Linked DNA regions of Homo sapiens. The protein of the gene in region 1 purifies or fractionates together with the protein of each later gene. This does not show direct contact. Each region holds a gene or a part of one and is shown on either strand. Other genes may lie near its edges.

Region 1 (3,500 bases):
AAAAAAAAGGTAGATAGTGGTTGCCAGAAGCTAGGTGGAGGAAGAAATGGGAAGTGACTGCTAACGGGTAGTTTTTTTCGGAGGGTGATGAAAATATTCTGGAATTAGATGGTGATGGTGCTCGGACAACCTTGTAAATCTATTAGAAACCACTGAATTGTACACTGTACAATGATGCGTTTCATGGTAGGTGAATTATAACTCAATTGAGAAAATAATAAAAGCAGGAGCTCTGCCATCAGCCTTGATGAGGCTGAATGCTGGCTCTATCGTTCACTATCTGGGCCTCACCGTCTGAAATCACACCCACCTCACAAGGGCGTTGTGGGGATGAACTAAGCAAAGGCTCACGATGCCTTTAGCACAGTACATGGCAATGAATACAACAATGAATGTTGGCTTTGGTTCATATGAGTACTAGAAATGATTAAATAAGACCCCTGCTAAGAAAAAGAAAAGCCGGGCGCCTAGTAGGCACTGAATGCCCCCTTCCCTGTAAGGCACCCTCGAGGTCTCCGAGTCTGGAGCCTGTAATCAGGCATAGACTCAAGATGAACATGAGCCGACATTTTCTGCCTCGCACAGGGACAGCTCAGCTTCTGTGTGCAAAGGGCTGAGCCGCCGACTTCACGGTTCAGTTTTCCCTGCCACGTGGGTACAGCCACCCTCTCCTTTTACGGAAGACGGTCTGAGAGGCTGCTGGCTTGAGTTTTCTCTGAGCAGAGCTGGGCACATTTACGCAACAGATAAGCCTGCCCTACCCGGGTCGGATCCACCCGGGAAGAGAGAAAGTGTGTGCAAGTGAAAGCTCACAAATGTGTGTTTCAACTCCCAGAAAAGCTTAACGGAGTCAGCCCACAGCACCAGGGGCCATGGAGAGCCATCCTAAGCCTTTCCCTGCATCAACTATCCCTCCCCAGTGCAGATATCTCAGCAGCAGCAGTCCATGGAGCTGTCAACTTCAGTCCGTGGGACTCTGAAGCAAGGACTCTGATAAGGTAACTCAGGAAATGGGCTAATTTTAAACACAGCTCGAATACTGTGATGTGAATGGAAACAACTGAGGAAGGAAACAGACTAAAACTCATCTATTACAAATTTGCAAAGGTTTGACCATAACAAGGGTTGGTGTGGAACAAAGGCAACCTGCACATACTTCCGATGGGAGTGTGAACTGGCATGACCACGGATGGCAACTTGGCAGAATCTCGTATATGGGAAAACGCACACATCTCTCCGCCTGGTGATCTCAGCCCTAGGTACACAGCTTAGAGCCTAGAGAAACTTGTGCATGCGCTGAATGAGTTGTTCTAGAGAAAGTTCACCAAGGCATTGTTTGTCACTTGAAACATTAGAAACACAAATGCCTATCAAAAGCAGAATAGATGAATTAACTAGGGAGCTTTTATACTCTGTAAGAAACCAGAGCAGTTTAATGAAACAGTTACGTAGATCAACATTTTTAAAATCTCAAAAATACAATGTTGAGCTAAAAGAAAGTAAATGGCGGAAGGATACATACAGTATAGCACCATTTATAAGAGTTTAAAACTGGCTGAGTGTGGGGGCTCAGGCCTATAATCCCAGAACTTTGGAAAGAGGCCTAGGCAGGTGGATCACTTGAGGTCAGGATTTTGAGACCAGCCTGACCAACATGGTGAAACCCCGTCTCTACTAAAAATACAAAAAAATTAGCCAGGTATGATCTCAGCTACTCAGGAGGCTGAGGCAGGAGGATTGCTTGAACCCAGGAGGCAGAGGTTGCTGTGAGCTGAGACCGTGCCACTGCACTCCAGCCTGGGCAACAAAATGAGATTCCATCTCAAAAAAAAAAAAAAAAAAAAAAGTTTAAAACCACACAAAGCAATACCATATATTGCTTAAACACATAGTCAGTATAGCACCATTTACAAAAGATCAAAACCATATATCTATAAAGCAATACCATATACTGTTTATAGACATATGCATATGTAATAAAAGCGTAAAAACATGCATGAAAAGATAAACACCAAATTCAGGACAGAGGTCACCTCCGAAGGGAGAAGCAGCAAACTATCTCAGAGATGGCATAGAAAGGGCTTCAACTGTGTCTGTAATGTAATTGTAATTGTGTCTATAACTTCTCAAGCTGAGTAGCAGACTCAGAGGTGTTTATGTGAACCTCAATCTTCTTTTATGTGCCTCAAATATTTCATAATAAAAAATTAACTCAAATGTATTGATTTGTGAGGGGACAGTATTAAAATACAGGTTCCAAGGTAAAACATTAAAATCAACAAGGACAGGTTTTTCTCCTAAAAGAAGGAAACAGAGGAAGCAAGAAGAGCCCTCTGAATCCTATTCCTGATTTTCTTTCGACCTTAGAAAAATGTTTTATCTCCTCTGGATGGGCCTTCAGTCTCTGTTTCTAAATGGGGAATAAATTGCTTGCCTTCTGTCTGCAACACACAAGGCAGGCAGCAGGATGCCCTGGGGAGGGAGCCGTGCTGGGAAGCCCGGGAATAATACTTCCTGTACTGACAACCTCGCTGAGGCTTTTGAAAGAGCATATGAAAGCATACACACACCTACACATATGTTAGTATAGTTGTGTGCAGAAACATTTATAGTGTAATCTCAATTACATATATATATAATTCATACCCGACATGACACTCACGAAGTGTTCCAGGATGCCCAGAGACAAAAAGCCATTAAAAAAAAAAAAAGCGGCCAGGCGCGGTGGCTCACGTCTGTAATCCCAACACTTTGGGAGGCCGAGGCGGGTGAATCACGAGGTCAGGAATTCAAGACCAGCCTGGCCAACACGGTGAAACCCCGTCTCTACAAAAAATACAAAAAATTAGCTGGGTGTAGTGGCAGGCACCTGTAATCCCAGCTACTAGGGAGGCTGAGGCAGAAGAATCGCTTGAACCTGGCAGGCAGAGGTTGCAGGGAGGTGAGATCGTGCTACTGTACTACAACCCAGGCGACAGAGTAAGACTCTGTCTCAAAAAAAAAAAATGCAGTCCAGAGGCAGTAGCTGGCACCCGTAATCCCAGCATTTCGGGAGGCCAAGGCGGGCAGATCACTTGCGGTCAGGAGTTTGAAACCAGCCTGGCCAACATGGTGAAACCCAGTCTCTATTTAAAATACAAAAATTAGCCGGGCATGGTGGCAGGCGACTGTAATCCCAGCTACTGGGGGGCAGGGGGGGGCACTGAGGCAGAAGTATCACTTGAACCCGCGAGATGGAGGTTTCAGTGAGCTGAGATCACACCACTGCACTCCAACCCAGGATACAGAGTGAGACCCCATCTCAAAAAAAAAAAAAAAAATGCAGGCCAGGAGCATTGGCTGGTGCCTGTAATCCCAGCTACTCAGGAGGCTGAGGCAGGAGAATCGCTTGAACCCAGGAGACAGAGGTTGCAATGAGCCGAGATCACATCACTGCATTCCAGCCTGGGCAACAGAGCAGAACTCCATCTCAAAAAAAAAGAATAAGAAAATACATGGCC
Region 2 (3,500 bases), on another chromosome or scaffold:
TCTTAGAGATGGAGGTGATAAGAAAGTGCCTGCCTCAGAAGTTTGTTGGGAAGGTTAGATAGAATGTTATGCAGGCTGAATATCCCTTATCTGAAATTCCTGGGGCCAGAAGTGTTTCCTATTTTGGATTTTTTTGGATTTTGGAATATTTGTATATACATAACATATCTTAGGGATGGAACTCAAGTCTAATGACAAAACTCATTTCTGTTTCATATATAATTTATACACATAGGCTGAAGGTAATTCTATAGCATATTTAAAATAATTTTGTGCATGAAACAAAGTTTTGACTGTGTTTTGACTGCGACCTGTCACCTGAGGTCAAGTGTCGAATTTTCCACCTGTGGTATCATGTTGGGGCTGAAAAAGTTTTGGATTTTGGAGCATTTCAGATTTCACATTTTCAGATTATGGATCCTCACCCTGTGTACAAAACACTTAGGATAGTTCCAAGCACTGAAGGTGTGCCCCATAATTGGCAGATGTCATCATGTTCAGACAACTGCTGACGGACTAAGCCATGAAGGCAGAAGAATCAAGGGGCTCAACAAAGGCTGGACCAGAGGAGAAATCTTCACCCCATCTGGGCAGCGCCCAGTCAACATTTGCTGATTGAAGTGAGTATGGGGCAACAAACAGGGCCTGATATGTGGAGGGCTCCCTGGGTGCCGGGACAAGGTTCCCTTGTAGGCTCGGCTGCCTGGGTGTGGGGTGCATAGAGCAGCTCATGGCCGTGAAGTGGGATTGAGCACTGCTTCCGTGAGCATGGCGGAAGGTCAGGCTGAAGGTCATGATGGGCGCTGGGGAATCTAGGGCCTGGAGAGGACATCACAGAAACAGTGGCTCTTGGGTTTGTCCTGGGTAGGGCAGGAGGTAAGGGATTGAGAAAGAGAGCTCGGGGAGAAAAGGCTCAGGGAAAAGAAAAGGCTCAGGGAGAAAGAAGACAGAGAGGGTTCCAGTGAGCAGGAGCTGCCTCCTGGGGCTGCTAGGCTGGGGTGTGGTACACAGGGTGGGGTAAGGGGAGCTTTGGCCTTTGGTGGCCCCGCATTGCAACAGCCCTTATATGCAACAGCCCTTACTCGGGTAGTTCCTGCAACCTCCCGCGGTGGAGCCCCGCCTCCAGTTCCCATCCATTTTGGTGAGTTTCCACTTCTTGTAGGTATCGCTGGTGAGAGTGTCTGGGGTCAGGTTACAGATCTCCAGGCGGGAATAGTGCCTCAGGAAGTCACTGAAAGACATCCTGGCAAAAGCAGAGACAATCATCACAGGTGATAAGAAGACACACTGGTAAGCCTTGACTTTCCACCAACACCAGACCAGGAGCCACCCAAAGCCAGGCAGAGCAGCTCATTAGAACTGAGTGGATGGGCACCAGGTTCAGAATCAGAAGGCCCAGATTCCAGTCCTGGCGCTGCAACTTTCTAGCTGGGTGACTTTGAGCAGGTTACTTAAACTTCTCTGAAGCTCAGAACTCTCACCTGCAAAAATGGGAGCCGTGCCCATCAAATGTGACAATATATGGGCCCCATTTGATAAAGAGCATGTTGTGTCCAGGTGCAGGTGGTTATAGAGTGGCGCAGACACACAGACATGTGGGTCCATTGCTGCTCACTAAGGGACCAGTTTCTTAAGGGGCTGGGATGAGTCTCCGGAACCTGGGGGAGAAAGGCCCCATCTTTCCCTTGTTTCCTGGGATCTGAACATTACCAAAGGAATTCCTCTTAGCCTTTTTCTGAAGCTGCTCAGCTTATAAACCCCATTGTCAAGATGGACCGTTGAAGGGGCTTAAGAATTTCTTTATTCAGGCTCTTATAGTGAACTTAAAATAACAAAACCAGGATCCCACACGCTTGTGTCCTCGACATGGTAAACTCACTTTGGCCGACACTCTTTCTAATTAGCAGTTTTCTAGTAAAGAACATTGGGGCAGACAGAGCTTTCCCTGAAGCCTCCACTAATCTTACCAGAATTCTCCATCTTCATGCCGTCTGGTCAGCCTTTCCCTCTCCTCTGGGTCTATAGTGTTCCAGCTTGGGCAGCTGGAAAACAAAGTAAAGAGAGAGGCGTTAGTGTACGATGATTTCTCCCCAAAGGCCCCAGAGTTGAGGAAGAGGGACATCTGCTCTCACCTCTGAGGGCTCAGGCTCCAGAAAGGGGGAAAGTAGCCCACATCTGGCTAACAGCTGCATTTTAATACTCTTACAGCACTTTAAAGAGTATAGAACACTATACAGATGCAAACCAGGGAGCAAAGTGAGCGGGTGAGTTGTGCTGGAAGACAGTGGCAAGGAAGAGTCCAGAAAATGAACATAGTTCATTAGAGGGAGATGGAGTAGCTCAGAGCAGTTGCCCAATTGAGATGGGCCTGGCAGCTCTTTTAGAGACAACTGAAGATCTGATGAGGAGCCTCCGGCTGAGGCCTGGGAAGCCTCAGCAGGTGTCTCTCTGTCCACGGAGCAGAAGGACCTGGCCCTGTACACAGGGGCAGTGCACAGGGTAAACTAACCACTGCCTGAGCTTTGGCTGGAATTACACACAGGCCTCTGTACTGCCCACCTCTCCAACCTGAGGCAGAGCAAGTAGGCTGAGGTTGCCACAGCAGATGTACAAACAAGTGTTTACCCCAAATAGTTGAGGGTTCAACATGCCTACCAGTAAGCCCTGGAAATCAACAGAGGGATGTTTCTCTGGCCTTTGGTACAAAGTTCACATCCCTGTAATAGAAGTGCCTGGGGGAAGGTGGGGTGTATTTTTTTCCCTGAAAGCCCCATAGAAGGGTGGATTTGAGCTAGGGAAGGGGTGAACCTGGAGGCAGTGGCAGGAATGAACTTCACACGAGCAGCTTGGGGCCTGGAAGAAGGCACTCAGGCTGCTGGAGGAGTGTCCTGGTTAAAAGACCCTTTGAGGGGCCCCTGTCCACGGGTCCCTGTCCACGTGGCCTGGGCTCTCCTGGCTATATTTCTCAGAATAATGCACATGTCTTCTTCTCTCGCCCTCTTCCCAGAGCCTCCCAGCACAATGCACCCCCGCCTGGGGCCCCGAGGCCTGCGCCCTCCTCACTTGTCATTCCACCGCCCTGTCCACTCCACTTCTCCCCAGGGATTTCGGATGCGGATCAGTTTCTGTAGGCTTCCGTTACTTTCAACCTGCAGGATTAGATAAAAGGGAGGAGTAAGAGGTTGAGTTCAAGTCAGGGCTATGAAGGCTTGGGCCTCCAACCCCCTTCCGCATGAGCCAGGAGGTATGGGGCTGAGGACGGTGGGGAGGATTTGGGGGTTGAGTCCATGTATGAGGGAGGATCACAAGAGCTAGAGGGGGCTTGGCACCCAGACCTCTCACTGCTGCCTAGCTTTGGAAAATGAGATTTAAAGCTCCCAGGATCCGGCTCTCGAGGATGGGGCTGTTGGTGCTTCATCTCTGAACTTCAGCTTAACTGACAGGATGCGCTTTTGGTAAAGGAGCTCAGAGAAGCTTTACCATTTGTTGAAAGATCACTG

What was found. Proteins that work in one complex are often made in the same cells at the same time.
Region 2: the proteins of HK1 (region 1) and CAPN2 fractionate together in Homo sapiens (co-fractionation; one large-scale study listed by BioGRID). This does not show direct contact.

The regions. Positions count from the first base shown.
Region 1 is NC_000010.11:69,325,347-69,328,846, reverse strand, and holds part of HK1 (hexokinase-1), read right to left. Parts: intron 1-3,500. UniProt on the Homo sapiens protein: Catalyzes the phosphorylation of various hexoses, such as D-glucose, D-glucosamine, D-fructose, D-mannose and 2-deoxy-D-glucose, to hexose 6-phosphate (D-glucose 6-phosphate, D-glucosamine 6-phosphate, D-fructose 6-phosphate, D-mannose 6-phosphate and 2-deoxy-D-glucose 6-phosphate, respectively).
Region 2 is NC_000001.11:223,750,539-223,754,038, reverse strand, and holds part of CAPN2 (calpain-2 catalytic subunit), read right to left. Parts: intron 3,150-3,500; coding exon 3,064-3,149; intron 2,043-3,063; coding exon 1,968-2,042; intron 1,244-1,967; coding exon 1,083-1,243; intron 1-1,082. UniProt on the Homo sapiens protein: Calcium-regulated non-lysosomal thiol-protease which catalyzes limited proteolysis of substrates involved in cytoskeletal remodeling and signal transduction. Proteolytically cleaves MYOC at 'Arg-226'.